Linked DNA regions of Homo sapiens: region 2 is linked to region 1. The links come from fine-mapping of genetic effects on gene expression. Tissue or cell type: whole blood. Region 1 holds a variant in brackets; the other region holds the start of a gene. All regions are shown on one strand. Distances are between the middles of the regions.

What was found.
Region 2: NPEPL1 starts here. The variant in region 1 is fine-mapped to the expression of NPEPL1 in whole blood (TOPMed, PIP above 0.99).

What each region holds. Positions count from the first base shown.
Region 1 is chr20:58,710,461-58,726,450 of GRCh38, reverse strand. It overlaps NPEPL1 (aminopeptidase like 1), which reads right to left. Exons shown (of 12, transcript NM_024663.4): 8 at 13,872-13,972; 9 at 12,908-13,031; 10 at 12,358-12,534; 11 at 11,781-11,891; 12 at 10,607-11,283. The coding sequence ends at 11,125. LOC124904942 reads right to left here and starts at 8,856. Exons shown (of 2, transcript XM_047440632.1): 1 at 8,456-8,856; 2 at 7,220-8,371. The coding sequence starts at 8,856. The coding sequence ends at 8,224. It overlaps STX16-NPEPL1 (STX16-NPEPL1 readthrough (NMD candidate)), which reads right to left. Exons shown (of 23, transcript NR_037945.1): 19 at 13,872-13,972; 20 at 12,908-13,031; 21 at 12,358-12,534; 22 at 11,781-11,891; 23 at 10,607-11,283. RefSeq lists an enhancer at 10,465-11,272. The variant C/A (reference allele first, on the strand shown) is at 5,822.
Region 2 is chr20:58,685,509-58,701,498 of GRCh38, reverse strand. NPEPL1 (aminopeptidase like 1) reads right to left here and starts at 8,699. Exons shown (of 12, transcript NM_024663.4): 1 at 8,449-8,699; 2 at 7,577-7,762; 3 at 6,907-7,077; 4 at 2,726-2,815; 5 at 2,221-2,302; 6 at 341-483. The coding sequence starts at 8,598. STX16-NPEPL1 (STX16-NPEPL1 readthrough (NMD candidate)) reads right to left here. Exons shown (of 23, transcript NR_037945.1): 9 at 10,272-10,465; 10 at 9,937-10,094; 11 at 9,719-9,775; 12 at 7,577-7,762; 13 at 6,907-7,077; 14 at 2,726-2,815; 15 at 2,221-2,302; 16 at 341-483. RefSeq lists enhancers at 6,513-7,120, 8,561-9,266 and silencers at 8,184-8,273, 8,294-8,373, 8,404-8,563, 8,574-9,063.

The sequences.
Region 1 (15,990 bases):
AAGAAAGAAGTTTAATTGGACTTACAGTTCCACATGGCTGGGAAAGCCTCACAGTCATGGCACAAGGCAAGGAGGAGCAAATCATGTCTTACATGGATGGCAGCAGGCAAAGAGAGAGCTTGTGTAGGGAGACTCCTGTTTCTCAAAACCATCAGATCTCATGAGAGTAATTCACTATCATGAGAATAGCGCAGGAAAGGCCTGCCCCCATGATTCAATTACGTCCCACTGGGTTGCTCCCATAACATCTGGGAATTCAAGATGAGATTTTGGTGGGGACACAGCCAAACCATATCATGTAGCATATGATTGGATCCTGTTTTTTTTTTTTTTTTCAATCCAATGTGACAATTTTTTTCATTGCTATATTTAGATTGTTTCAATTTAATGTCATTATTGATATAGTTACATTTAGGTCTACCATTTTATTATTTTTCTATTTTCTCATTGTTTTCTATGTTCCTTTTTCTGGCTTCTTTTGAATTATGTGAATATTTTTAATATTCTATTTATTTTATTTATTGGCTTTTATTGCTGTATCTCTTTGCATTACTTTTTAGTTGCTGCTTTAGGCATTATATACATACCTAACTTTTCATAATCTATTTAGAGTTAGTATTTCATCGTAGCATGTAAAATATAGAAGGCTTATAACTATGTGGTTATCTTTACCTTCTCTGTGTCATACTTTACCCTCTTTATGTTATACTTTTAACTCCTCTGTTATAATTGTCATAAGTATTAAATCTACATACATTTAATGCCCTTGATAATGTTATAATATTTGCTTTTTATAGCTTATATACATTTTAGGTACTTTGGAGAAGAAAAGTAACCCATTATATTTACCAGATATTTACCTTTTCTGTTGTTCTTCCTTCATTCCTGAAGTTCCAAGTCTTATACCGGTGTAATTCCTTTGTCTGAACAACATCCTTTCTTTTAGAGTAGGTCTACTGGTGTTTTTTGTTTTTTTTTGAGACAGAGTCTCTGTCGCCCAGGCTGGAGTGCAGTGGCGTGATCTCGGCCCTCTGCAAGCTCCGCCTCCTGGGTTCACGCCATTCTCCTGCCTCAGCCTCCCGAGTAGCTGGGACTACAGGCACCTGCCACCACGCCCGGCTAATTTTTTGTATTTTTAGTAGAGACGGGGTTTCACCGTGTTGACCAGGATGGTCTCGATCTCCTGATCTCGTGATCCACCCACCTCAGCCTCCCAAAGTGCTGGGATTACAGGCGTGAGCCACCGCACCTGGCCGGATTCTTTAAGTCTTTTCTTCTTCCTCAGAGTGTGTCTTTTTTTTTTTTTTTTTTTTGCTTTCATTCTTGACAATTTTTGCTCTATGTAGAATTCTGAGTTGACAGTTCTTTTGTTTCATGTTTTTAAAGATGTGTTCCCATGTCTTCTGACAACCATGTTTTCTGGTTAATCTTCAGTCATTGTTTATCACTGCGGTAGGTATGTTTTTTCTCTGGCTGCTTTTTAGATTTTTCTTTATCTTTGGTTTTCAGTAATCTGATTATGATGTGTTTGGGTGTGCATTTTTTTGATTTCATCCTGTTTGGAGTGCTCTAAACTTCTTGAACCTGTAAATTTATGTCTTTTCCCATATTTGGAAAGGTTCTGCTATCATTCTTTTCAAAAAATATTTATCTCCACCAATCTGTCTTCTCTTAGGGATTCCAATTATAAGAGTATTAGATGTTTCGATATTGTCTAACAAGTCCCTGAGGCACTCATATTTTGAAATCTTTTTGTTCTGTCAGTTCTTCAGTTAGAATAATTTCTATTGATCTATATTCAAGTTTACTGGCTCTTTCTTCTGCCATATTGATTCTTTAGACTTTTTATTTTGTAATAATTTTCCATTTACGGAAAAGTTGCCAAGATAAAACACAGAGCATTTCCATTTACTTCTCACCCGGTTTTCCCTAATTTTGACATCTTACATTAACATACCATAGAATGTTTGTCAAAACCAACAGGCCAACATTGGTAGGTTCCTACCAACCAAACTCCAGATTCCACTTAGATTTCACCAGTTTTTACATTAATGTCCTTTTTTGTTCTAGGATACCACATCACATTTAGTGGTTCTTTTTTATAGTTTTTCTTTGTCAAACTCCTATTTTTCCATCCATTTCAATGTTTTTAAGTTTTACTTCGTGAAGGATAGTTATAATCATTTCTCTGAAGTCTTCATCCGACAATTCCAGCATCAGGGTCATCTCAGGATTGGCATCTTTTGATTGTATTTTCTCTTAAGAATTGGTCAGATTTTCCTGATTCTTGGTATGTCAAATAATGTTGGGTTTTCATCCTGGACTTGTAGTTTTTGTATGTTAGAAGACTGGATCCTGTTTAAATCTTCTGGAGAATGCTAATTTATTTCTCCTTCTTTTCTACCTTTCTCTTCTTCTTCTTCCTCTTCCTTCTCTCCTCCTTCCCCCACTCCTCATCATCCAACTCTTCCTCCTCCTCCTCCTCCTCCTCCTCCTCCTCCTCTTTAGCGGGCAATGAATCCAGTGAAATTCACACTGCACATTCTTTCTCTCCCATGAGCGGTGGTTCAGATGTTAGTTCTCTCTTAAGAGCTTTGGCTGTGTGACTTGCAGGTGACCAGTGCATGCGCTGCTCAGAGGTGAGCCTGGAGCTTGAGTGCTGTTGTATATGGCAGTTCAGACCTCAAAGCCTTTGCTGTGCTCCTGCCTCTTGGGAATGTGGCCTGTTTGGGTGCTGTGTGAGTGGTCCTTGTCCCCTCTGCACCTTAGGATGGTTCCTTCCCTAGCTTGGGGTAGTGTCCTCCTCACATGTGCTGAGGAGTACTCAGTACTCCATGAAGACTCAGGGGAACCCCCTGCCCGTCTCTGGATTCCTTTCTCTCTGTGCCACTCTCTTCTTCCGAGTTCTGTGTCCAGCAAACTCCAGCTGCCTTGGCCATCCTGGATGTTCAACTCTGTCCCTTGAGCTCATGGAGGCCACCTGCCTGGGCTTGGCTTGGGTTTCTCCTCCCTGGGCCACACCTGGAAACTCTCCCCAGGCAGGGAGCTGGGCTGGTTGGAGGCGCATCTCATTTGTTCCATTTCTCGCAGGCATCACTCTGGGGCTGCATGTTTCTTGTGTCTGAAACAATGCTTTCTATAGATTTGTCTGGCTTTCTAACTCATCTAAAGCAGTAGTTAAATGCAGCCCCTGCAGCTCTACCATGACCAGAAACAGGAGTCAGACCGAGCTTCAGGGTGCTCTGTCTCTTGCCTTGCAGGACATTCTCACTTCCCCCCATCCCTGGGACTTCCCTGGGCTCTGACAGCCCAAATTCCACTCCCTCACTCTCAAGCCAGTAAGCCTGTGGCTCTCTGTGGGAATTCCAGCCACCCCGTGCTGAGGACTGGGGCGTCCTCAGGGAAATGGTCATATTCACACAGCACTCTCTCGTGACCTGCAAGGCCTGTGTCCACCTCTCCCACCCCATCTCACTCCCCCATCCCCGTGCCCCCCTCTCCTTTTCAGCAGCAGTGGCCTCCTTTGCATTTCTGTAACTTGTCACAGCCCACTCCAGCCTGGGCTTTTGCACATGCTGCACCCTGCACTGGAACTGATTTCTCCCATCTTCTGCACCATTGAGTACTCACATCCTTGCACTCTCAGCTCATGTATCTATACCTCCAGGGAGGCGTTCCCTACCTGGTCCCCTCCCCAAGCAAGGACAGGCCTCCCTTTAAAATGTCCTCATCACACCACCTGCCCATACTTCACGGCAGTCATCCCAGTTTGTGGTGTATTTCTTTGGGTAATACTGTGATGAGCACCTGTCCTCCTGGCGGGACTGTGAACCCTGGGAGGGCAGGGGCCATCTCTCCTCAACTTCGTCTCTCAGCACCTGACACAGAGCAGGAGCACAATGAATGTTCATTGAATGAATGAGTGAATACAAAACTACACACGGAGGGGAGGTGGGGGCCTGCAGTGTTCCCTGACACCATTCCCTCTGCCTAGAACTGCTGTCTGTGAGTCGTTTATTTATAGCATGGGGAGGAAATGGGACTGCGACATCTCCCAGCCATAGGAAGATACCATGTCTTCCTTCGGGGGCCCACGAGTTTGCACAGGAGTGGGCAGGAGCCATGTGTGTCTATTCTGCCTGGAATTTTCAGGGCCAAGCGAAGATTGGATGGAGGAAGCCGAGCTGAGAGGGCAGAGGGTGCAGGGTGCAGACTGGGATGGGGAAGGAAGCTGGGCCCGAGCATCTGGGGCTACCTTTGTTTCTCCGGATCTGCACTTGGCTTTTCCTTCCCCAATTCAGGAATGAGTCTCTGGTCATGAATGTGGAAGTAGCCAGCGAGCACGTGGTATACTACGTGGATAAGGAAACACGAGACCCACTGGCCTGCACGCTCACGCACACCCGAGAGAGCCTGTAGGAGCCCCTCCTTGCTCCAGCAGTGCCCTGGCACAGAGGGTTTTCTGCCGAGCACAACTGTTGCAGGGTGGGGTTTACCACGTGAGCAAAGGAGTCGTCTTTTGCCCATTTACATGGCACTTTCATGGACATATGTCCCCCTTGCACAGGTGAAGAATCTGGCTGACTGACGCCAGGACTCAAAGCTACAAAAGTGGCAGAGTCGGGATTTGAGCCCAGTTCTGCTGACCTGGGCATGGCACACGGACCCATCCTGCCTCCCGGGGCACAGGTGGCCAGAGGAGTCCAGGGCCCATCTATATTTTTTAAAATGTATTATCTTTTTATTGTGGTAAAATACACGTAACATAAAATCTGCCATCTTCCCCATTTCTGAATGTATAGTCAAGTGGCATTAAGTGCATTCATAATGTACAACCCGCACCACCATCATCTCCACGACCCCTTTCATCTCGTAAAATGGAAATTCTATCCCCGTTCAACACTAACTGCTCATTCCCCCCTCCCTTCAGCCCCTGGCAACCAGCCTCCTACTTTCTGTCTCTATGATTTTGACTGCTCTAACTTACCTCGTAAAAGTGGAATCCTACAGTATTTGTGTTTTTGTGACTGGCTTATTTGACTTAGCATAATTCCTCAAGGTTCATCCACGGTGTAGCCTGTGTTGGAACTTCCTTTTTAAGGCTGAACATCCACACCTTGTATTTGTGACATTTGATTATTACTTGTTCATCCACTGATGGGTATTTGGGTTGCATCCACATTTGAGCGATTGTGAATAATGCTTCTGTGAACCTGAGTGTGCAAATATCTCTTCGAGGCCCTGCTTTCAATTCTTTGGGGTGTATACCCCGAAGTGGAGTTGCTGCATCGCGTGGTCATTCTATTTGTAATCTTTTGAGGAACCGCCATACTGTTTTTCACAGCACCTGACCCATTTTCCATTCCCACCGGCCGTGCGCCAGCGTTGTGATTCCCCTACATTTTTACCAACACCTGTTATTTTCTGTTTTTGTGATAGTGGCCCTCCTAATGAGTGCAGCGTGGTTTCTCACCGGGGTTTTAATTTCTATTTTTTGAATGACGGTGATGCCGAGCATCTTTTCCTGTGCTTTTGAGCCATTTGTGTCCTTTTTTATCTATTGAAGCGTCCTTTGAGTGTTTTTGAATCAGATTCTTTTATTGTTGTTGTTGCACTTTAGGAGTTTTTATATTCTGAATATCAATGCCTTATCAGGTATATGATTTGTAAATGTTTTTCCCATTGTGTGGGTTGCCTTTTTACTCTGTGAATACTGTCTTTTGATGTGCAAAATTTCTTAATTTGCATGAAGTCCAATTTGTCTATTTTTTCTTTTGCTGCCTGTGCCTTTGGTGTCATAGCCAAGAAATCAATGACAAAT[C/A]CAAAGTCATGAAGGTTTTTGTTTTGCAAGGCCCATCCATTTTACAGATGAGGAGACCGAGGCCCGGGGTATTCAACAGTAATGAGTCTGGGATATTCAACAGTAATGAGTCCTTTTGGCCTGGCTGTATGTCTCTGTCCGGCCTTCTATTTATTCACTTCCCTCCCTCCCTCCCACCTTCATCAGCCAGCATACGTGAATCTGCTGGGCCATCGGGGTTTGGATGCCCCCTTCCCTTTCACAAACAACCTGTGCGACCTGGGGCTTCTGCACCTGCTGGAATAGGGGGGAAGATAACAGCACCTCCCAGGGGCTGCCTTGCATGTGGCAAATTGCTGATGACACATTAGCTCTTCTGGTAATGGCTAATAACACCCCGATGGGGCAGGGGGGAGTCCTCAGTCACCCCCGCCCCTGTGGGTGCCAGGGGCACAGCCCTCCTCCAGCTTCCTGCAGGGCCGTGCCGGCTCCTCCTTCCGGAAGCCGTTCCACTTGCAGGCTGGGAAGACACACCTGCAGGAGGGATCTGCTTTTCAGGGACTGCATGCCAGTAGTGTTTAGCAAATATTGTTGGACAAGGAAGCTGGCTTTGGGCCTTCATGCACTGGAACAAGCTGGGTCATGGATGCCACAGAAACTTATCCAACTCATTAGGAGAAAGGGGGGTCTCAGGCCCTCAAAAGAACTCACGGTTGTGAAGTTGGGGTAACTGCTAAACTGATTTAAGGGAGGCAAAGGGGTCCATGACATCACTGAGTTTCTTATGCAGCCAATGGGAACAGATCGTTTCAGCTGGAGGCTGCCGTGGGTTCTAACTGTGCCATCGGTGAACGTAAACCAGGCTTCTATGCTTTGTAATTGTGGGTTTTGGTTTTCAATGTTGTTTTCCTGACTGCAGAATGCTGCCTGGACTGATCCCCAAAGCCCTCGGGACTCCAGCAGGCACTGAAAGCAAAGATGGCCCATCGGTTGGATGTCAGGAAGGACTGTCACCTCCCTGAGGGTGTGTTAGCATCTCATCTGCTGCATCCTTGTCCCCTTGGCCCTGTGCAAGGGAAGAAAGCAAGCCCAGGCCATGGGGAGGGGCACAGGTCTGGGCTTTGGGGACCAGCCTAGCAGCAGGGTTGCATGAAGGCAGCCCCACCCCTCCTGAGCCCTATTTGTGAGGCCGTGGGGAAGGACCCCCGCCTGGGCCAATGTTCCCCAGAAGCTGAGCCTAATGTGGGTGAGGTGGGAGCTTTGTGTGCTGCTGGCCTTGCCTCCGAGAGCTGCATGATGACAATGCCGTCCATGTGCGTGGGGCCTGGGCTGTACATGTGCGCGGGGCCTGGTACTTTTCCAAGGGCTTTTCAATGCATTATCTTGTTGAAGGCTCATTTGAGGCAAGGACTCGAAGCAGACAGGAAAACAACCAATTTACTGAATCCTGAATGGAGAGGAAGCTGAATGCAGTGTGTATTTTTGCTGAATCTCAAACCAAAACAACTTTTGTTAAAGAACAAACAAATAAACAAAAATGCTGAACACTAATTCGCCAGGGAACACAGTCTGGACCGAGGCTCTGGGCAGAGAATCAGGGCAGCGAATTCCACAGCCACTTGGGTTCTGGTGGGGGCTGTGGATGGCAGGCGAGCTCATGAACAAGAGCTTTTGGGGACCTGGCAGCAGGAGCGAGGCAGGAGATGCTGGTGGGAGGGGGTATTTCAGGTGGGGGACCTGAGCCTTGAGCGAGGCAGGAACGAGGAGCCTGTCAGGGGCCTCGGGTCCTGGTGTGCCAGAGTGGAGGTCCCATGTTGGGAACAGCCTGGGACAGCTTCAGAGGTTTCCTGGGGGGTCACCAGCCCGATTGGAGTTGCACTTACAGTAATTAATCTGCAGCGGGAGGTGGGGTGGGATTTTCTAAGATGATTGAACGTCTTGAGCATTCCCCAACAGAAACGATTTCATTCCATTTGAGTTGCTTCTTTTAAGTGTCTATCTCTTCCATTTTTGGTGGCACAGAAGGGGAAGGCACAGATGGGTGTCTGTGTGGCACAGGGAGGGCCCGAATGGGAGGGGAGGTGGAAGACCCTCCACCTCACATGGGTCCTAGTGGAACTCACGCACCACAGGCCACAGACCAGTGCACACGCATGCACTCACGCACGCACCGCCATGGTGACACACGATCACAGAGATGCGCGCTTGGCCTGGAGTTCCTGCTGGAGACGGACTTCCCGGAACCCAGCTCACAGGAGTCTGCTCCCTTGGGCAGCAGGGGCCAGAGGATGGGTGGTGAGAAATCCTCCTCCTCACCACCAGCCAGAGGCCGAGTCCACAGGGACCAACACCCAGTCCCTTCTGAATGGGTCTCAGTGGCCTCTCCTGCACTCCTGAGAGTCAGGTGACCATCGATCCCTTGCTTAAACATCCGTCACAGCCTGTGGGAGGCAGCTGTCCGATGTGGTCACCCTGAGTGGCCCTGGGTCTTCTGAAGTCATTTCAAATGTCTCTGGAGCCTGGTGCCGCCGCTCCCCTGGTTTCCCACCTTTGCTGACAAAGACCTGACCTCTGGGGAGAGATTTTCCATCAGTTCTGGGGGCCTGCATCTGGGTCCTCTCCCAGGCCGGGGCCTGTACCCCTCACACAGCGCACCCTCGTAGGCTGCAGGATGTGGACTGGCCAGCCTTCCGCAACGCCAGGGTCTGGCTGCAGCAGCTGAGGCCGGCCGATGCCCTGAAGACGGCCCGATGGCTAAGTGGTGGGTGGCGCAGGAGGATTGGTGGCCCAGCTGTGACCAGAACCGGGGCTGTGGCCACGACCTGGAAATGGTCATCTACAATGACACAGCCCCAGAGCCCAGGCTTCCTGGCGGATGCCGGTAAAGCTCTCTTCAGCCTGGAGGTGCAGCCTTCAGCCGGGCTTTCCATAGCCCTCTGGCCCTGCTCACCTGTTCTCACAGTGGCCTTGAGTGTGTATGTGCAGCCCTGTGTGCCCTCAGCCCCAGGTGTGCACAGGCCGCTGGTGGCCAGATCTAGGGCTCCCTTCTCTAACATGGAGGGAGGAGGGGCCTCCCTTTCCTTCGCCTGCTCTGCTCATCACCTCCAGCTCCTGCAGCCTTTTTCCCAGAGACATTTCCATCCTCTCATCTCTTGTCCCTGTCTCTGGGATAACATCACCCAGGTGGGCCCTGGGATTCCAGGGAGGGGGTGTGGGTGGGGTCCTAGCCCCGCCTACTTGGCGTGGCCATGGTGATGCTCTCGGCCAAGTTCATCTGGGAGCACTTCCTTGGGGCTGTGCGCTAGCCTGCCTGTGGGGGCTCTGCACCAAGCTCGTCTTCCTGCACTGCTCCCCGGAAACCATGATCAAGTGGACCCAGAGCACCCACCTGCCCCCCAGCACCGCCAGCCGCCCCATGACCCTGTTGCCAGGGCTCTGGTGGGGCCTGGGGAAGCAGCCGTTGCCTCCTAGAGCCCTTTGGCCCCAGGGAAAGCCAGGCCTCTGGCTCACCCCCGTGGGCCCCCCGACGCCGGCAGGCAGGCCAGGCCAGCCAGCAGCTGGTGCCCAGCTGGGTCCCTGGTCCTGAGGCCGCCTTTGTGCCTGCACAAGGGAGACTCAGTTCCTCCCCTGCTCCCTGACCCTGCATCCTGTGTCCATGCGGGCGCACCCCTGGTAGCAGGAGCAGACGGTGCCAGCTGCCCTGGAGAAGGAGCCAGCCACCTCAGGACCTCTGCCTCTTCTGGGTGTCTCAGGGGAGGCCGGCAAGCGGGGCCTACTGCAGCACCATTAAGCAAGCTAATGACCCGTGAAGGCTCCTAACCCCGGCTGCAGCCGCCCCTGCTCAGGAGCTCCGGCTCCGTCTCCCCGGCTGCTGCCCACAATTGCTGTCATTGTGTTGGGTGACAGTTTCCTCAGACAGGGCCAGGACCTTGGAGCCAGTTCTTGCCTTTTCAGGCCCAGCCGGGGCTGTGTACACAGCAGGCAGTTAATAAATATTTGCTTGCGATCAGGCCCAGAAAGTCACCTTGATTTCCAGGGCTGTGGGGGCACATGGATTCTGGGGACCCTTGGGGTGGGGTGGCCAGGGGCTCAGGACACAGCCTAGGGCCACGTGTCCCACAGATCTGCAGCCAGGTCCTCACCCTCGGCCCTAGCTGAAGAGAGGTGGGCACTGTCCCCTTCCCTGTGGGGCCTCAGACCCAATCCCTTCCTGGGGGGCCCCAGGCAGCCCTGCTGCGACTGACAGCAAAGGGGATGTATGGCAGGGACAAGGTCCTGGCCTGTACTGTCACCCAAGCCAGTGGGAGCCTGGCTCCTGGGTGCCTTGGACCCGCCTCACCTGCTTTTCCTGGAGCCCAGGTTCAGGGGTTCCCTGAATCCTGGCGGGGCTCCCGGGAGATCCGAATTGGCTTCGGGGCCCTGCCCTTTATCACCTAGGACAGTGCCCAGGGGCACGGAAGCACAGTCGACCTCACACAGCGCAGGCTCCAGGACCCTCGAGAGACAGAACGGCCTCCGTGCAGGCTGCCGGGCTGTAGAGAGTTCAGGAGCCCACAGCACTTCCACCTGGAGTCTGTGCTGTGTGCACCCAGAAAATCAAAATGGTCAGGAAGGCCAGGCCTAGGCCCAGCGGCCCCCTGTCCTCCCCAGGTCCTGGGCTCCTGTCATCAACACTGGGTTGACCAGCTGGGGCTCAAAGCCAGAGCCGGTCTGGGAGAAGCAGGAGGCAGCCCTGCACTACATTCCCTAGATGGGCTCCAGGACCCGTTTCTAAAATGGAGGGGGAGAAAGAAGAACGAGGCCAGGTGAGGGGGCGGTGTGACTGTATTTAATTGAACCTCAAGTGAATTCTGAGAGGCCGGAGTGTGACTTCTCTTGCCCTATAAATCAGGTCCCCTGCAGCAAGTCAGCTCCATCTTTCACAGGGCTGGGCTGGCTGGATGCGCTGGCAGCCCCGGCTGGAGTAAGAGCCTGGCTGTCAGCCACGCAGGTGCCCTGCACAGGACCTGGGGCTGGGACAGGGCACCAGGCAGGCAGGAGGCCTCACCCCGGGGTGCAGAAGGCCCCAGGGGTAGCAGTTTACAGAAGATGTCTCAGTCCTGTAAGTAACAAACAGAAACAAGCCCCAGCGCTTCCCGGTCCCCTCCCCGTGGCCCGCACCAAACCCTAAGCTGTCTCCTAAAACTTCAGCTGTTTCCACCACCACGCTGACGACCAGAAAGACAAACCAAAACCCATATGAAGGGCAATCTTTCAATTGCTTAAAATTAATCAGTGCAAAGTGAGGTAAAAGATCCCCGTTTGTCAGGGCCGAGGCAGGAGGCTCACACAAGCCTGCGTCTCTTGGAGTCCCTCCCCAGGTCCCCCTCCTCGACATCCACCTCACAGCCCAGTGGGGACACCAGGTTCAGCAGAGGGTCCTCAGAGGCACGGCCGAAGAGCGCCAGCAGGAGGGCCACACCGAAGCCTGTGGCTCGCTCACCCTGCAAGCAAAGGGCAGGACACAGACTCTGGGCGTGGGGCTGCAGCACAGGAGGGGTTCCTGGGGACCCCTCACCTCCTGGGTCCCCTCCACGTGCCCCACAGTCCCCTTCTCAGGAAGGAGATCCTGAGCACCAGCCGGAGCCCAGAGCCTTCCATGCTGCTGGCTGGACACGTTCAGGGCTGGCAGGCCAGGCGTAGGCAGGGGGCAAGGCCCTGTGTGCTCTGCCTTCACCCCGGGAGCTCCTCAGGGTGGGGATGGGTGAGACAGGGCCCAGGATCCCCTATGGAGGACAGGCTGGCTGGGGAAGGGTCGCACACAGCAGCCACTCTGTTCCCAGGGAGGATGAGACCTGGGGGTGGTGGGGACAGCGGGCTGGAAGCTGGGTCACAGACAGAAGTTTCTGATGAGCTCTGCCAGCAGCTCCAGAGCCAGAGGGGCGCTGTTTGGACAAGCGGGCGGGAGCAGCCAGGGCCAGTGGGGAGGGGAGACACTCACAGCATGCACCGGTGCAGCAATGTCCAGGTGGACCCAGACTCCGGGCCAGTCGAAGCCGATGTGTGAGGCGATGAAGAGGCCAGCACAGGAGCTGGGGCTGTTGTCTCGGTCCTAGGGAGGCCAGGAGGACACAGTGCCTGTGGGTTGCTCCGGCCGGGCCCTCTCCACCCTGCCCCATCGCCTGTCACTATTGCTGTCTGCAAGGAGCTCGGGGTGGCTGGGAGGGAGCGTGTGGGGAGGCAGCAGAAGCTGGGCTGGGAGGGCCTTGACCATGAGCTAAGGAGTCTGCCCCCACCATAGGCCAAGGGGGAAGCCAGCAAAGGGCCTGATGGGGCAACTGAGCCAGACCCAAGACTGGGGGAGAAACCCTTGGCTGTGTGGCAGGGAAGCCAGTGAGTGGCCCACGCTGTCTGGGATGACTCCTGTGCCCTGACGCCTGCCTCTCAAGCCCTCGTCTGCACTGTGGCTGCTTCTGGGGGGCCCCAGCTCCCTGGGTGCACCAGCACCCTGAAGGCAGGGCTCCGCCTGCCCGGCTCCACCCATGTGGCAGGCTCCAGGTTCGAGGCTCCAAACCTACCGCCACTGAGTTCTTCATGTCCGCCACAGCTGAGGTGAACTCGCTGAAGTGCAGCTCGGGGCAGTAGACCAGCGGGTGCACCAGGTCCCCACACTTCCTGCCCGCCTTCACACAGGCGGCCTCCCACTCAGCGCTGTTGGTGAGCACCGCGGCGTGGTACTTCCCTGTGGCAATGCCCTGGGCGGGCAGGAACCCGGGAAGCGTGTGGACGGGACGGCAGGAGAGAAACACCCAAGGCAAAAGAGGGACCGGGAGGCAGACAGAGAAATAAGGGAGCCAGAAAAGAGACGGTTGAGAAAAAAAGAAAAAACACAGGCAGAAAGGACCATGGCCATGAAGCACACAGGAGGCGGTTCCCGGCTCTGCATCCAGCCTGGGCCTCGGTACTGCCCACACCAAGCTTGACGGGCAGCTCCTCCTGCCTCCTCGTGCCCAGTTATGAAAACTTCCTGACGGCAGCCCCCACGCGCTGCCTTCCCCACCTTGAGGTCAAGAGTGGGGTGGGGTTCCCTGGGACTACAGCTAAGGGGTGGATCCAGGGAGCACTCACCTGAGCCCCGGTCAGGGTGGCCATGTCCAGGATGATGTCGGCCCCCAGGTCCTTGCAAGCATAGGACACGCCATCTGCCAGCACCAGCCTGCCCTCGGCATCCGTGTTGTTGATTTCCACCGTCCTGGGGCATGGTAGAGATCCCCGCTCAGGGACGGGATTTCCTGGGACACTGGCATGAGCCCCTTTGAAACTGGGGAGACCCCATTTGGAGCTGCCCATCCCTGTGGCTCCCCGAACCCCAACACGTTCCCTGAATGGGAAGGCCGGGATGCCCCCAGTCCCTACAGCAATGCAGTGCCTGGAGCAAAGGGCTTCCAGGTGACATCCCTGCCCCGCTGCTCTGGAGAGCCAGAGACCAGCCATTTGGCTCTCCCATGCCTCAGTTTCTTCTTCTGTAAAGTGGGTGGCATGAACCGGCTGGGCTGGCCTTCAGCACACTGTGCCTGGCACCCGGCAGATGGGGAGGAAGAGCAGGAGATGCGGGGAGGCGCCCACTCAGGCACCAGCTCATGGGGCTGGGGAGAGGGCTCTTCTCTTTTGAATTCTGGAGCCACTTGCTCCTCAGCTGCCAGCTCAGCTTTGACTTTCCAGGGTCAATCTCAAGGGGGAGATGCAGGAGGTGTCCCCGAGCAGGGAATCTGGGGGTCAGAGCTTCACACACCCAAAGATTTCAGGCCTAAATTTTGGAAAGACCTGTCCTGGTAATGCAGGGTAGACCACGAGCTCCTGGGCCAGGCACTGCACGGGAGCCTAGCACCTCATCCAGGTGCCATGGGCCCCTCAACGTGAGGTGCGCCTGCTACCAAAGCTCCCCAGCCCTCCGGGAAGCAAGGAGCCTGCTGCCCAGGGGACCCCAACGCTGAGTGCCCTCCCGATATGCCTGGAGTGAGCTGGCATTGCAGGCCGGGAAGGGTCGCGAGTTCCAACAGTGGGCAGGAAGGAGTGGGAGGGCCAGACGTACTTCCCTGAGTACAGCAGGTGGATGTCATCTGGCCTTGTCGCATTGGGCCCCACCGAGTTCTCAGCCAAGCAGAACACAGCGTGGAGGTTGTCTTTGAAACCCTGGAGGGAGAAGTGGGCAGAGGCTCCAGTTGTAGGTCATAGGTTTGGGGAGGGGGGAGGACGAGCTGGGGGTTCTCAGACCCACAGACAGCAGGAGAGAGAGAGATGGCTCCAAGTTGCAGGGACCAAAGCTCGCCCTCCCTGCCATCCCGGGTACAGTCCTGGCAGATCCCAAGGCCAAGGCTCACCACTGGGGTTTCCTAGCCTCCCCTGGCAGAGGCCACCCGCCGCAGTGGATGAGCCTGGGCATGGGCTGGGCTGTGGGACTCTTGGACTGCATGGGCTGGGCAGTCATGAAGCCTCGCCAACCTGTGCCGACAGAAGGTGGCCAGCAGCCGCGTCCCCTCAATACACACACACACACACGTACACACACAGAGGGGCAGGAAGAGCTCAGCCTCGTGGAAGTTTAGGTGTGAAGTTATGGCTTTCTGATGCCAAAAGTCATTTGTTCACTGAGAAATGTGTGGCCAACAGATGGTGGCAGTTCCTGCCCTGCACAGGTTCTAAGGGTGCCCCCTGACCCCGAAGCGGGCCACACCCGGGCAGCAATGTCAAATGGAGTAGAGCTCCCAGACCCCTGTCCCTGCCCTTCCTCTGCTCCCGCAGACGAATCTTTAACCAGAATACATCCTCCTAGCATGGAGCATGCCTCGAGAGCGCGGACACACAGCTCTATAGGATCCAGCGTCTTTCTCATCTCCTGGAACAGCCGACTCTTCCACCACGGGTGCAGAGCCCTCACCAAAGGCAAACACTTGGGATGGTGGGGCAGGGGCAGCCAGCAGGGCAAGGAGTGGCCAGTGGCAGGAGCTGCAGCAGTGGTGCTGGGCATGGCAGCTGCGAGTCCCTGAGACCTCCCTGGGTCCCCGCTCAGTCCTTGAGCCTCACAGATGGCCCCGCACCCCCACGCAGCACAGGGGAAAGAACCCCACCAGCCTCAGGGTGATGATATCGGAGCCACCTGTCAGCTCCACAAGGGCCCCAAGTCCCCCGCTCCCACTCTCGCAGCCCAGCCTGTGTCAGGGACACGGGGCAGGGGCTTCAGGACCCTCAGCCTCCTCCTCTCAGAGCTCCTCCCCAGATACCCCAGCACTGACATTCCATCTGTGTGTACAGTGACCACGGCCTGTCCCTGTGCTGAGGCCTCCTGTGGTCATTCCAGGGAGAAGTGGGTGTTTAGGAACAACGAATAAATGACAGCATGACCCTGAGGTCACAGGATGAGGCCATGGGGCTCCAGGCCATGGACGCCACAGAGATGAGCTCCACCAACAAAGGAGGGGAGCCCTGAAGTCCTCCTAGAAAGCAGAGTTCTGGATCTGTAGCCTGCTGGGGCGTGGGGAGGAGGAGGAGAGGGGGAGGAGGGGGGGAGGAGGAGGAGGAGAGGAGGCGGGGGGGGAGGAGGGAGGAGCGGGGAGGAGGAGGATTCCCAAATGGATGCTTTCAGCCTCCCAGGGAGGGCTGCTACCCGCTGAAGGCTGGGCCCTGCCCCTAATTTCTGATCCAGCAGGTCTGGGGCAGAGCTGAGAACCCATATTACTAACAACATGGGGACCCCACTTGAGAAGTGCTGGCTTAGAAGACGAGCGAGCTGCAGTCCTGGGGCAAACAGTGCTGAGGTCTGCACGGCTGGAAGACGTGAGACAGAGACAGCACAGGCACGGCCCTGCCCTTGCGGCCCTCACGGCCAGTCTGGAGGTGTTCTCCAATCACCAGGAGCGGCTGAAAAAATCCAAGACTCAGCAGAGCTGGAGGTGAGCCCTGGAGCTGTCAATGTTCACACACTTCCTGGGTGTTACCTGGCACAGTTGGGACTTGCTGGTCTAACAGAAGAGGGTGGCCAAAGATGGGGCTGGACTGTGAGTGCTTCAGCGACAGCGTGGGAAGGGTCTCCAGTGCTACGCCAGGGCTTGGGCCTGGTCCCCCAGGGCGGCCAAGGGTTTTGGGTTGGTAAGTGGGTCAGGGGCTTTTTTTTTTGGTGCCAGGCTTGGAGGGTCGCTAACACCCCCAGAGCC
Region 2 (15,990 bases), 25 kb after region 1:
AACCCGCCCTGCGCACTCTCCCCGAACCCACCCCAACCCAGAACCCCCAGAAACCTCGCCGCCCCCCACCCCATGACACCTCTCAGAGGGCTGGCTGGACCCAAACTGGGCCCCTCCCCCCCCCCCAGGGCACCCTGGAGAGCCTGCCGGCACCTCACCTTCCCCTCCCCACCCCACCCCACCCCAACCCCAGGGCACCCTGGAGAGCCGGGCCCACACCTCACCTTCCCCTCCCCACCCCACCCCACCCCACCCCCAGGGCACCCGGGAGAGCCGGGCCCTGCACCTCACCTTCCCCTCCCCTCCCCCAGGGCACCCTGAGAGCCAGCCCGCACCTCACCTTCCCTTTGATGCTGAGGCCTCCAGTGTCATAGACGATGCCTTTGCCCACCCAGGCGATGGTCTGCGTGGCTCCATCTGGGGTGTGGCTGAGGACGGCCAGGGCTGGGGGATGCAGGGCGGCTTTGCCAACCCCATAGATTCCTATGGAAAGCGTGGGGAGAACTGGGTTAGGCTCGGGCTGAGCTGAGCGGGGAACTCCCAGAGGCCCCTGGAAACTCTGGCCGGCTGGTGTTTCTCCTGGAGAGCCGCCTGCCTGAGCCTGGTGCTCCCTGCCCCTTCTCCTGCCCCTGGCCAGTGTGGGATTGGGGAATGCAAATTAGCTCCAATGTCTGAGATTGCAAACAAATTCTATGCAAAGTGTTGTTTGTTAAGCAAGAAAACCCACTAAGGGAAAAAAATATTGTATCCTTTCCAGAAAGAAAAGAACAGGATTGCAGAATGAAACGATGTTTGGATAACACCTCAAGGCTGCCCCAGCCCATGCTCGTCCCCACTTCCTGAATCCTTTGAGCACTCAGGGACTGCACCGCCCTTTCACACTCGCTCCCACAGTCCCTGCACCACTGCCTCTTTGGTTTACATGACACATCTTCTCAAGAAAGCTGTGGCCTGTGCGTGTGCAGAGTCTATGGCTCAAAGTCCTGCAATAATTGAGTCAAACAATCATAGCAACAATGACGAGAGCTAATCATGGCTGCCTGACAAACTCCAACTCATCCTGTAAGATCCACAGCAAATGCCACCTCCTCTGTGAAGCTTTTCCTGACACAAGCGGCCTCTCCCTCCACTTGTAAATGGCTCCTGTCTAGGTAGACACCACCAGGATGGCCCCTGTGGCCCCCACGTCTGGGTATTCATGTCCTTGTGCAGTCCCTCCCCCTCATGTGAGCAGGTCCTGATGTCTCACCTCTAACCAAAAGAAAAAGGTAGAAGTGATGAGATATCACTCCTGGGATTAGGTCACAGAAAAAGATGGGAGTTTCCATCTTGTTTGCTCGCTCTTTATCCCTATCTCTCGCTCAGAGACCTTGCTCGGAGGGTGGCTCAAACAGCAAGGACCTGCTGCCTCCAGCTAATGGCCTGTGAGGCCCTGAGACCTGCCAGCAGCCTGTTGTGAGCCTGCCCGGAAGCACATCGCCAGCCCCAGGCAAGCCCTCAGATGACTGCAGCCCCAGCCAACAACCTGACAACAGCAGGCAGAGACGCTGCACCAGGGGAAGATCCCCAACCCACAGCACGGGGAGGGGATAAGTGTTGCTGCATTCAGCTGCTATCTTCCGAGTGATTTGTTTTGTAGCCACACATAACACAGACAGCCGCCTTCCTCTTGCCAGTCTACAAGCACCACGGGGCAGCTGAGTCATACTTATCTGCCCCTCTGGTTCCTGGGCAGTGGGGAAAGGTGGGTCTGGGGACTTGGGGAAGGCCTCTCTGAGGAGGGGGCATTGGTTGAGATGGCCTCCACCAAAAATATATCTTGGGGGAAAGTATTCCAGATAGGGAGAGCCATCCGCACACAGGCCCTGCCTGCCGTGATGGGAACTTGTGTATTCAAGGAACAGAAAGGCCCTGCTGAGCCAGTCCCAGGAGTAAGGGTGTGCAGCACGCGAGGACGCTGGAGAGGCTGCAGGCAGGGAAGGACTTGGATCTAGCAGCTTCCAGAATCCAAATCAGAATCTGGATTGCCTCCCCTTCTCCCCCAGGGACGGCTGCTTCCCAGGGTCCGGCACTGGGCTTGGACACAGGCTGATTCCTTTCAGGTCACAAGCAGGATGAAGTTTGGGACAATGTGCCATGTGGCCCGCCGACCCCCTGCCACCCAAGTGCCCCTGGCCACTGCCCGAGGCCAAGAGCTGCAGGGATGCAGCCCCCACCCACCTCCAAATCCTCTCGTCTTCAGTTCCTCATCCCGGATGATGGTTGGGATGATCCCCAGCTCCTTTCCAACTTTGTTAATCTCCTGGACATGTTCATGGAAAAAACAACAGCACAACAACACATGAAGATGGCTGGAAACAGGAGAGGCCGAGGCTGGGGCCAGGGATGAACCGCTGCCTGTGCCGCGTCGGGGAGCCGGGCTTGGGAGCCAGCTTCGCGTGTGATGAAACCCAGAAGAGGGGGCTCACCCTCCACACACTCTCATTTCCTGTAGCTCTGGCTGTGGTCCTGCCAAGGGGCCTTGAAGAGGAGGCTCTGTCCTCCCCACACACCCTTTCCTGAGGCTTCCTGGAGCCCGGCAGACAGCAGCGCTCCGCCGAGGGCAGCCCTGAGGTTCCCTGGCCACGTCAGGGTGTGGACAGCCCCAGGTTTCCTCTGGCTCTCCTGGGAGTCTATGACACCCACCCCAGCCTGGTCCCACCCCCGGCCTGATGACGCCACAAACCTCGAGGAAGGTGTCGGTGTTCATCTCATTGCAGGGTGTGTCCACGATGCGGGCTGCTAGCCGCACGCCGTCTGTGGCATTCGCTAAGCACTAGGGAGAAAAAGGCCATCACTGGGGACCAGGTGGGAGGCAGATGTTCTCCCCTTGTCCATCCCCCAGGAACAAAAGGCAGCAGAGGCAAACATCACCCACAGGGCTACTGACAGGGCAGCAAAGAGAGGGGAGAGGGGGACCATGGCTCTCGCTGCCTGCCCCACCCCCAGCAACCCAGGGCCACCGGCCACCTGTAGAAAGAACCTTCAGCACAGCCACCACCCTGCGCCTCCACAAATATACAGGAGTCCCCAGCCTGGGGTCCTGCCCTTCTGTATCTGGATCTTTTCCAAGCCCTGTGTCCTGTTTCTCCCCTGATTCCAGCTACAACTGAAGGTAGGTGGCCCTCATGCCAGCCCCTGAGTATGCCCTGAGCTTCCCACGCCTCACCTCTGCAGATCCCACAGTCCTTTCCCTCCCACCAAGATCCCAGTCATCCTTCGAGGCACTTCTCATAGGCCGTATCTACCAGTAGCTTTTCCAGATCCTCCCCACCAAGCAGAAGCACTCTACATCCTGAGTGCTTGAACCTGCTGGCCCTCCCAGACGCCTTCCCTCTGGGCCGTTGCTTTCCTCATGAGTCCCACGCAAGTCCCTCATAAACCCTGCAAGACAGATGGGGGTCTGGCTGCCCTAGTGCTGTCACTTGACACAGCACGGTTCTGGGCACGGAGGGGAAGGACACAGAGGGAGGTCTCGCCTCATGGAACTGACGTGTCCACCCAGGAACTGAAAACATGGGCCCTGCTGGCCTGGCAGGGCTTCAGAGCCCACACTCGAAGGCAGGGCAGAGAGGGGCACATGCACCAAAGCACACATCACGTGGGTCCCAAAAATGTGTCCTTCAGCCCTGGCTTGGGCCATTCTTTGCCTTCTCATGTGTGTCTCACATCTGCCCTGGGAGCTTCACTCTCTCTCAGCTGAATCTGCGGGCACCCCTTCCCCACCCTGTTCCCCACTGTGCATCCCCAGGCACAGAAGCTTCAGACAGCTGGCTGCTTGCACGGCCTCCCTTGCTCACCAGAAAGACAATATTAAGAGAAGAGCAGCGCTGTTTTGCGGGGGTGCAGGACAGCAGCAAGTTTATCATCCCTGCCTCTAGTCTCATAATGTCAGGGCAGCAGGCGCCGGGTCGATACTGCAGCCTGGCCACCTCCCCCGCCCTGCCGAGGTAATTAAACCCCAAAGCCTCAAAGGTAGAAACCTGGACCTTGACAGCTCTGATATGAATGTGCCTGAGCCGTCCCTGCCGCCTGTCAGCGGGTTCTCTGTCTGTGAGGGCATGTGGGGACTCGACAAGGACTGTCTGAGAAGTGCGTCAATGCTGTGTGACTTGCCTCCAAGGAGGCCAGGTGTCACCTGGAAGACCCCAGACCACGGCGAGCTCGGGGCTCTGACGCAAGAGCGCTCCTGTGGGAGGGAGGGCAGGGCTGCGGGTGCCCTCCACCAACACACAGCCATGCTGCACTGGGGAAGGGTGTCCCTTACCATGAGAGGAGGACCACTCATTCTGTCCACATGTGCCAGGCATCGTGCAAGACTCTGAGAATTCAGAGACGTCCAAGGGAGTCAAGCTCAGCAGAGACTCACAGTACACAGTCCCAGTCCCTGCTACAGAAGAGGATGAGGCCACAGGATGCAGAGGGGACAGGGTCCTGGGTGGGGACTGGAAGGTTCCCGCAGGGAAGAAAAGGGAGAAGCTGAGTACAGGCCACGTGGGTGTCAGATGATGGTGTGCTCAGGACCCAAGAGGGCTGAGTGGTGGCAGCTGCAGCTTAACACCTGGCTCTGCCCCTTGCTGCCGTGGCCCCGGTGAGCCACTCAATGTCGTGGGGACAACAGGATGTATCTCACAGGGCTGTAGTGAGAATTCAGTGCACCAGCACGTGCTGTGTGCACACTCCTGCCTCAGCGCAGGGCCTGACAGCTGACAGCACTCAGAAGATGCCACCTTGCACACACCCAGATGTGCCTTTGGAAGGCGAGTGACGCAGGAGCTGGAAGGAGGCCATCTGTGGCAGGGTGACCAGGAGACTGCTGCCACAGCCCAGGAGAGCACCTCAAGGCACGGCACTGGGCAGAGCAAAGACAAGAAACAGGACACACTAGCTAGTTGGGACCAATGGGGTCGGGGGCCATGGGGACTGACTGCCCCCACTGGTTCCATCACCAGATGTTTACTGGGCCTTTTTCATGTGTGGGGTCGGGTGCTGGGATCACTGTGCACAAGACCAGGTCCCTGCCCTCTGGGGACTCCCAACCCAGTGAGGAGCACAGGAGATCAACAAAGATGTGACATGTCTAGTAGTGATGGTTTAGCTGACAAATGGGAGGGTGGTGCTAGCCAAGAGGGCCAGGCCTCCCTGGGGAGGGAATGTGGGCAGAGGCTGGATGGAGACCATGCTGGGCTGGAGAGGGAAGGACCCCTGCAGAGGAGCAAGAGCAGGAGTGGGCGTGGCCAGTCTAAGGGACAGCAGGAAGTCCACAGGAGGGGAAGGGACTGAGGGCAGCAGAGGTCAGGGTGCCCTGCTGTCCTCGGAAATAAGGGTGATGCTTGAGCCCCCGGTGGGCTCTGCGGGCACCCGTGCCCACCTGGATGGCAGGCCTGGAAGTCAGAAGAAAATCCCTAAAGACAGAGAGAAGAGGCAGATGCTGGTGTCTGACCCGGAGAGGGCTGAGCAGGTCGGAACGCTGGAGAGGCCATGAAGGGGATGCCGAGAGGTGGCAGCAGTCTGGGGAGCAGCGGGAGGGAGGGAGACCTCTGGATGGGGCAGATGCACTTCAAGGAGGGACGGCAACACCCCATCCAGCAGTCCTTAGAAAACAATGTCAGGATGGGGGCAAAAACTCTGTCTCCATGGGTTAAGAGGGAAAAGAGGATTAAGCAAGGCAAACCAGTTAGACTTTTTTAAAAGCTCAGAGACGAAGGGAAAAAAGGGGAGCTATCTCATGCTGGTGAAGATGGAAGAATTTGGGTTGAGGGGCAGTGGTTACAGGCCTCAGAGAGCACACAGTGAAAGAAATGAGGTGTGGCCCAAGTGCTGATGTGGGAGAGCTTGCCTGGGTGAAGGCGACAGCCTTCCAGAGCCAGAAGTGAAGAATGAGCGCTGACACATGAGAAAAGACAACCTGGGTGGCGCTGTGGGCTCGGGGACTGGAGGTGGCAGGCGCAGAGGCTGGGACCGCTGCCGTGGGGACAGGAGCCTGATGTCAGGCCCATCCAAGGATCTGGAGCTGGGAAATCACTTCCGGCCTTGCAGCCTCAAAAGGATCATTCTCAGCATTGAGTGAAATAACACATGTAGAAGTGCTCCCTGTAAAGGGTGCAGCAACACACATGCACACACACCACACACACACCACTCATGCACACACTAGCACTCATACACACACAGCAACACACACAACACACACACACACCACTCATGCACACACCAGCACTCATACACACAGCAACACATGCTGCTCATGCACACACCAGTACTCACACACAACAACACACACCACACATGCACACACCACACATGCACACCACACACACACACCACTCATGCACACACCAGCAAACACACACACACAGCAACACATACCACACGTACACCACACACACCACTCATGCACACACCAGCAAACATACACAGCAACACATACCACACACACACACACATCACACATGCACACACACACCCCCCACACATACAACACATGCACATACACTCATACACGCACAGCAACACACATGTGCACGCACATACACACACACGTGCATACATCACACACGTGCACACGGAGCTCACATAAACGGGCAGGGTTATTTGGAAAACAGCATGGACGTTCCTGGCACTGATTACGTGCTCAACAAACACTGCCTGTATACAACAGAATCCTGAAGTCACAGACCACGCTGAGGCAGAGGCAGGGGGCCTGGGTTTGGAAAAGCCTCTGCCGCTTCCCAGGAACCAAAGCTCCTGGGAAGGGCAGGAACCCCCTCCTGCCCCCGCAACAAGCTTTTCCCTCTCCCGACCTCCCTCCCACCTGCCCGATCTTGCCCGGGCCCAGGGGCAGTGTCTGCCCTTCCAGACACCCACCTGCAATGTGGACACCTCCACCGGCCCGTTGTCTTGTCCCACCAGGAAAAACTCCACGGTGACCGTCTTCTTCTCCAAGCGCCGAGAGGCACCTGAGCGGTGGGTGAACAGCGGGAAGGCCCGGGCCAGGGCACAGGCGGAAGCAAAGACCTCCGGCTGCTCGCAGACCATCTGTGGCACATAGGGAGACGGCGTGAGGGGTGCAAGGGCCGCCACCAGGGAGTGCAGGGAGCTGCTCTTTGAACGCCTCCGGAACATCAGCTCCCTGGCAGGTGACATCTAGACAGAGATGTCCCACAGCAGCCGCCACCCCATCCCTCAGGTCATCCCCGGAACCATGGGACCACCATTGGTCATGCTCCAAGAGAAATAACACATTGGCCACCAGATGTCAACAGCCTGACCAGCCATGAAAATGAGGGACAGAGGGACAGACACAAAGTGGGCCTCAGGAAATCTAGGTTTGAGTCTCTGATTTGCCACCAAAACTGATCTGGGGCAAATCCCCGCGTCTCTCTGGACCTGTTTCCCTGTCTACAGAGCAGGGATGATAACGTCCACAGCCCTCTGGGCGTGCGCTGCAGTCTGAGCAGGGCTGTGAGCTCCCCAGGCCCGAGCTCACCGCTGCCCGACTAGGAGCACCGTGGCTGCCTCCTCTCGAAGCACTCACCACAATGCAGCGATGCGCTCCGGGCGGCAGGCAGGTCCGCACCAGCCGCGTGATGAAGTGGGCGGCCGAGGGGCTGTTGTGCCGGCTCACCCTGCAGGGCAGGGCAGCCACGGTGGCGTAGTTCAGGTAGAGGGGACAGCTGTCCGTGGGGTTGGGGTTGAGCGTGCTCAGGGCAGCCTGCCAGAGCTAGATCAGAAGGGAGAGACAAGACACAGAGGCTTCAAACAGCGGCCACGTGCCAGGAGGCCCTGCCCTGCAGCCACGGCCACAACCACTCCTGCAGTCCTGGAAGGGCACTGCGCAGCTCCCGGCCACCGTTTTCCCATCCTTAGGGAGATGTGTCGCCTCTCTGCAGAGCTAACTGTCTCTAGGCTGGCTCGCATCCCCCTGGTGGGATGAAGCCACCAAGCCTGGAAGGGCCAGGCTGGGGGCTGCTTTGCTTCCAACACTCGGATAGGGCTTAGGCGGCTTCCACCAGAGAGGGGGCAGGGGCCAGGTGTCCCCAAGGAAAGGCAGCTGGGGACACTGCCATGGGAACTTCTGGAAGCCAGGGCCTGTCGCCAGGCGGGGCCGACGCGCGGCCCTGGGAGCGGCCACGTCTCCCCCCCCGCCGTCCGCAGGTGTCGCGGCCTCGCGGGGCGCAGGGCTGGGCTGACAGGAGGACCACCGCGCCGCACCGGCGACGGGGCCTGGGGCTGGGCCTCCGCGGGCGAGGACTGGCCTGGCGGCTGAGCCCTTCAGGGAGGCGGCCCGGCCTCGTTGGGCCCGGCCCGGCGGCGGCGGGGGTGCGGCGGGCGAGGCGGGGCCTCCGCGGGCCGCCCGGGCCTGGGCTTCCGCGGCGCGGGTCGCATGGCGGCCGGCGGCCCGCTCACCTCCTCGGTGACCCGGGGCTGCAGCTTCCCGCGGACGTGGCTCCAGGGCACGCGGTGCAGGTGGTGCAGCTGCCCGAGCAGCAGCAGGGGCCGGCTCTGTGGGTCCGAGTCCCCCGCGCTCGCCTGGAACTGCAGCCCCACGTTCGCCATCTTCCTGCCGGCCCACGCCCCGGCCCTGCCCGGCCCGGCCCGGCCCGCCGCTCGGCCCCCTTCGCCCCGCTCCGGCCCGGCCTCGGCACCGCCCCGGCCCTGCCCGGCAGCCCGCGGGCCCCGCCTCCCCCGCCGCTCCGGGCTGCTCGCGAGACGTGCAGGGCCCGCCCGGGGCGCGAGGGGGCGCCGGCCAGGCCGGGCGGAAGGGTGCGGGCAGGCCCGGCCGGGCAGGCCCGAAGCCGGCCCCGAGCAGGCCCTGCCGAGTAGGGCCCGCGCGCCCGGCCTCCAGCGGCGCCGCCCCTGGGCCTAGCGGCCCTGCCCAACACGCGGGGCGACGTGGCCCGCCAGGCAGCGCCTCCCGGACGGGCCTGGCCTCCAGTGGGGCCTGGGCCGACGTAGGCCCAAGCCCACCCGACGCAGTTCCGCCCGGTCAGGCCTCAGGCTGGCCCCAAGCAGGTCCCCCGAGGTCCCTTAGCAGCTGCTTTTGATCCCCAGGGACCCCGCACCCTGGCCACCCATCAGTTAGGCCGGAGGGGCCCAGTGACTCTTGGACCTGAGTCAGGTCCTTTTGTCCCACTGCCTGGCATGGTGGGTACAGCGTGGACGGTCACTTCCTCCTCACTTAATCGGAGGTTCCCTGGCGTTTATCAGACCCCGCTCTGCCAGGCACTGCCCTGGATGTGAGAGGGTGACAGGGACGTGGCTTTCCATCCAGGGCACTGCTGCTGGGATGGCCAGTTACAAATCCAGGCACTGCCTGGCTGCATGGGGGGCCTTCCCGCCCACCCCTTTGCAAGAAGGGTCATCTGGCACAGTCTAAGCAGGAAAGGAGGGACGAGATGAGACGAGGAAGGAGCAGGGTGACCTGAGTCACCTCAGTCGCCTTACAGGGGAGGAAAGGCCATCGGGGGTGTGGGGCAGGAGCCGGGTGGTGGAGGAGCCAGGGGTGAGCCTTGAGTGGATGGTGGAGGCGGAGGGTCCCACCCACAGGGTCAGATGCAAGGGTCAGGGAATGACGATGCATTGGGGAAGCTCCACCCAGGAGTCATTTAAAAGCAAAAATCTGTTACCCAACATCCTGATTGCTCAAGGGCCTTTGGTTGGTACCCTCCTCTGTTACCTCCATGTAGTTCCATAAGCCACTCCTGTTATTTTGAGTTTCTTCTTCATAACCAGCCTAAAAATGAAAAAAAAAAAAAAAAAAAAAGAAAAGAAAAAAAGAAAAAAAAGCACTGTCAACTCCCTGGCGTGGTGTGAGAGGTTTTCCACCACTGACCTCCCAGCTGGCCCCCTAGCTCCCTAACTTGTAGCCCCGGGAGCCACAAGCCAGGCTTTCACCTTCCCTGTCCACAGGCTCCAGGTCTGTCTGCTCAGCTCTGAGCCATGGTCCCTGGCCCCTTGGAAACACCACAGACTAGAGCTTCAGCATCCTGAAGGCAGGTCTTTTTGACTTTTTGTTGTTTTTTTTTCCTCCAGTTCCTGGCACAGAGCAGGCACTCAAAAAAAAAAAAAAAAAAAAAAAAAAAAAAAAAAAAAGCTGTTGAATGACTGAAAGGCATTCCTTTGAAACCCTCAGCTTTCCCGACATAAAAGTCAACGCTAATTGGATCTTATTTTCTTCAAAAGATTTTACAGCAGCTGAATGTTTTCACACATTGGTAAAGGGTACTAACAGTGTGTATGAAGATCTCTCACTCTTTTTTCTGTTTGCAAATACGTTGCAGACAGGCACACGGCACTCCAGAGGACTGAGACAGCTGGAGGATCTTCCTAGAGGGTGAGAGACTAAGGCCATGCCCTGACAGATGTAATAGGACTTCCACAGGCGAAGAGATTGAGAAAGAAGGCCTTCCACGTGGGAGAAGTCCTGGGAGGAAACACAGACGCAGAATATGTCCAGCAGGCTCTGAAACCTGTGTGGTTAGAACAGAAGGTTCCTGGAAAATAGGAGTGGGTGAGGAGATCGACTGGGGAGCCTGGCTCACTCTATAGAATTTTGCAAACTGAAGAGGGATCCAAGAAGCATTTCAGAAAGCCAGATCTAGCAGGTTTGTGTACAAGGAGTTGGAAATGAGATAAACTGTTGGTGGAGAGGTCATTTTGGAGATGTTTTTCTTTTAGAATTCTTTCATATTTAAGAATAGACTGAATAACCCTGACAGTCCCCAGAAAGGATGAACAAAATGATTCAATTCAACCAACATTTGTTGAGCACTTAGTGTACACAAAGCAAGAGAAAACGTTAGATGCTTGTTAAAAGCAAATATTGGTGATTCTGGTTTTAAGCCACCCCCGAATTGAAGAAATCCAAACTAAACAGAACGCTAAGGAATTATTCCACTTCAAATGCCTGCCAATTTCCTCAAGATTCAGCTTGTGACAGATACAAATACATTCCAGGAAAGTACTTTCCCTTTTTCACTGCTGACTTTACAGACTTTAACATAAATAAGACAGGCAGCACTTTGTTTAGATAAATTTTTATGAAGGTATTAATCCATGGCTTACTATATATTTCACTGTCAATGAAAAATTCAACTCTATTTAATTTTCCTTAAAAAATGAAAGTTTAAAACAAATTACCAGATCTTTAATGCAACCCAAAAATCAACTTATGTTTTTGATGGCTTGAAACCTATTCCACATTCAATTGGATGTTCAGACTTTGCTCCAAAGTTGAAGAAAAGATTAAAAACTTCTGGGACAAATCAGAATAAAGCTCCTAGAACTTACTAGGATGTTTTTTGGTACAGTTCACATTCTAGGACACATTTCTGAAATCCTATCTTGTAAGATGGCTCTAGGTGTTTGAAATCTACATTTATATGTTAATTTCATGTCAGACTTCACCCCTATAAAACCTAATGCCTGCTTAGACTCAGCTGATTGCCACGAGGCTCTCAGATTCCATTATATCCGATACTTCAAAGAAACATTTCCTCGGTGCATCTGCTTCGTATTTTCTAGCATTTTCATTCATTCATTCATTTGACATACATTTGTTGAACATCAGTTCTGAAAAGCTACAGGACCCGTGAGGCTTTGGGGACGCAATAGCGTGTGTGTGTGTGTGTGTGTTTGTGCATGTGCACGCATATGTGTGTGTGGCCAGGAGGAGGAAGGGGAAGCAAGTAGAACAGTAAAATCCAGAGATCCAGTCACTGGGAGAAGATTGAGTTAGGGAAGGCCCCTTGGACTACGATGAGACTTTTGAGTTGGGCCTGGAGGGATCGGTTAAAGTGTGTCAGGCAGTCTGATCCCTGACCAAGGAATTGTTCATGCAAAGGCCTGAAGTAGTAAAGGACATGGTTCATTCTGGCACTGTCAAAAGCTCATGTGGAACCAGGCCCCGTGGCTCAGGCCTGTAATCCCAACACTTTGGGAGGCTGAGGCAGGTGGATCACTTGAGGCCAGGAGTTTGAGACCAGCCTGGCCAACATGGTGAAAACCCATCTCTACTAAAACTACAAAAATAAGCTGGGCATGGTGGTGCATGCCTGTAATCCCAGCTACTCGGGAGGCTGAGGCATGAGAATCACTTGAACCTGGGAAGCGGAAGTTGCAGTGAGCCGAGATCACGCCACTGCACTCCAATCTGCAGGACAGAGACTCTGTCTCTACAAAAAAAAAAGAAAGAAAAAGAAAAGCTCCTGTGCCAGATATAAAGTGCGCATAAAATATATACTGACCTTGCAGGTTGTACTTGACCTTGCAAGTAACTGGAGACCAGTGGAAGTGCCTCAGGCAGGCCTGAAGTGGAAGCAAGGAAGGGCTCCTTCCTGCTTCAGAATGACCTGCTCGTGAGCCCAGAGGAAGCAGAGGCAGGCTCAGCTCCAAGGACCTCCCTGAGCAGCTGGCTGAGAAGTGAGCCCACAACCAGTGAAAACTGTGACAGCTGCACGACCGCCTTGAATGCTGCCCTGCGTTGTGGATGTTTGTGCTGTCCCTTGCTGCAACCTGAGTGCCTGCACAGCAGGGAGGGCCTCCGTTGCCTTTTGCAACTGGCACCAGACATGCCACCTAGATTTGCACTAAATGTTCCCTGAAGGGAGGAAAGAGAACTCGTTGCCATGAAAACACATTTCTCTAGAAACTTTTTTGAAAAGTTCATTAACTTTTGGAAAAGATGAAAAACTAGTATAATGAACACTTGTATACCCTTCACCTAGATTCATACATATATATACAGATACACACACACACACACCACACACACACCACACACACATACACGCACACACCACACACACATACACACACACCACACACACACACACCACACACACCACACACACACATACACATATATACGCACATACACACATGTATACACACACAGACACACACATACACACAAACACACACATAGACACACACACACATAGACACACACACACACATATATACACACATACAGGCACACCTCGGAGATATTCTGGGTTCAGTTCCAGACCGCCACAGTAAAGTGAGGTATGCCTCTATATACACAAACATGCGTATATGTGTATGTGTGTGTATGTATATATGTATATGTATATGTGTATATGTATATGTATGTATGTACACATATTTTTCCCTGTACCATTTAAAGTAAGTTGTATACACCCCTACCTCATTGTGTATCTCTTAAGAACAAGGACACCAGCCGGGCGTGGTGGCTCACGCCTGTAATCCCAGCACTTTGGGAGGCCAAGACGGGCAGATCTCCTGAGGTCAGGAGTTCAAGACCAGCCTGGCCAACATGGCAAAAACCCGTCTCTACTAAAAACACAAAAATCAGCCAGGCGTGGTGGCATGCACCTGTAATCCCAGCTACTCGGGAGGCTGAGACAGAAGAATCGCTTGAACCTGGGAGGCGCAGGTTGCAGTGAGCCGAGATTGCGCCATTGCACTCCAGCCTGGGCAACAGGAGTGAAACTCCATCTCAGAAAAAAAAAAAAAAAAAAAAAAGGAATTAAACTACCATCAGAGTGAACAGGCAACCTACAAAATGGGAGAAAATTTTCGCAACCTACTCATCCGACAAAGGGCTAATATCCAGAATCTACAATGAACTCAAACAAATTTACAAGAAAAAAACAAACAACCCCATCAAAAAGTGGGTGAAGGACATGAACAGACACTTCTCAAAAGAAGACATTTATGCAGCCAAAAAACGCATGAAAAAATGCTCATCATCACTGGCCATCAGAGAAATGCAAATCAAAACCACAATGAGATACCATCTCACACCAGTTAGAATGGCAATCATTAAAAAGTCAGGAAACAACAGGTGCTGGAGAGGATGTGGAGAAATAGGAACACTTTTACACTGTTGGTGGGACTGTAAACTAGTTCAACCATTGTGGAAGTCAGTGTGGCGATTCCTCAGGGATCTGGAACTGGAAATACCATTTGACCCAGCCATCCCATTACTGGGTATATACCCAAAGGACTATAAATCATGCTGCTATAAAGACACATGCACACGTATGTTTATGGCGCCATTATTCACAATAGCAAAGACTTGGAACCAACCCAAATGTCCAACAATGATAGACTGGATTAAGAAAATGTGGCACATATACACCATGGAATACTATGCAGCCATAAAAAATGATGAGTTCATGTCCTTTGTAGGGACATGGATGAAATTGGAAATCATCATTCTCAGTAAACTATCGCAAGAACAAAAAACCAAACACCGCATATTCTCACTCATAGGTGGGAATTGAACAATGAGATCACACGGACACAGGAAGGGGAATATCACACTCTGGGGACGGTTGTGGGGTGGCGGGAGGGGGGAGGGATAGCATTGGGAGATATACCTAATGCTAGATGACGAGTTAGTGGGTGCAGCGCACCAGCATGGCACATGTATACATATGTAACTAACCTGCACAATGTGCGCATGTACCCTAAAACTTAAAGTATAAAAAAAAAAAAAAAGAACAAGGACACCAGCCAACATAATCATGATCATATGCTGATCATACCCATGAAATTTAACATTGAAACAATACTATTATCCAGTATACAGTCTGCAATGAAACTTTAATCGTCCCCTTGTCCTTCATGGCTTTTTCTTTTTAAATCCAGAATCCAAATAAGGCATTGCGTTTGGCTGTGAAGCCTCTCTGGCCTCCTTTAATCCAGAACAGTCCTTACCCTTGTCTTTCATGCACTGGTATATCCTACAGAAGCTCTCACCATCTGGATTCGTCTGTTTTCTTAGATTTGGGTTGAACGTTTTTGGCAAAAATACGGGTTATGGTTCCCATCGAACCTCATCAGGAGGCACATAAACTAAGTGTCCCCCATCATTGGGCAAGTGGGGTCTGCCAGATCTCTTCATGGTAAAAGTGCATTTCCCCCTTTTATAATTAATTGAATTATAATTTCCTCTTTAGAATCCATGGAGTGACACTTTGAGACTAAGAACCGTCTGGGTCTCAACCATCTATTCCTGAATGTCTTTGGTATCCAGTGATGATTTCTGCCTGAATCAAGTATTGGTTGAGTGACTTTCCAGCTCTATCCTCCCTTCTACACTTACTACCTGGTGTTCTTCAGCAAAGACCTCCCCCTCCCCAGGGCTGGCAGCATGATTTGTGGAGTCCAGTGCAAAACGAAAACGCAGCGCCTCTCTTTCAAAAAGCAATTTCAAGATGGCAACAGCTGAGCACTAAACTAGGCACAGGGCCCATGTGGCTATGGTGGCTGCACATCCTTGAAGCCAGCCCTGCCACAGCCCATACGTGTGTGCATCTCATCAAACGTCACTGCTCCCAAGTGTCCCCACTTAGGCCAATGAGAGCTGCATCAGGCAGGCTCCTTTTTGATGTGTTCTTATCCATTTTCAAGGACTTTGTCCTTCCTGGAACAGTAAGATGATCACAGGCTCACTTTGTTCCTTCCTTGACCCAAATCCAGAGTCAGCCATTTCTCCGAGAAACCCTAGCTCCATTCAGTGAGGGGAATGGTTGGTTAGAGCCAACAGCTTCAGAGTTAGAGACCAAGCTCTTGTGCTGGGCATGCTCCCTGCCACTTGGGCGTCATTGCTCCTGGTCCTCTTGGATCTGTTAAGATCAGGTTTTCTTTAACATCATGAGTTGATACTGATTCCTCCCATTCAAATCCACGTGACAGGGCTTTTCCTCACCTGCCCATCTTCCATAATCGCATCTCCCTCTGCCACAGTGAGGACCCTGGTTCCCAGCCCCTCCTAGGGTTTCTCACTCTGTTTCCCACAACACTCACCAATAGCCTCCGCTCCCGACAACAAACCCACAACACAGAGTTCAAGATGTTTTAACTTTTTGTTCCTAAGAGTATATTCCAGGGATATATTCCACATATACTTGATTTTTGTGCAGCTTACTGATTTGATGTACATTTAGGTTCATAAAT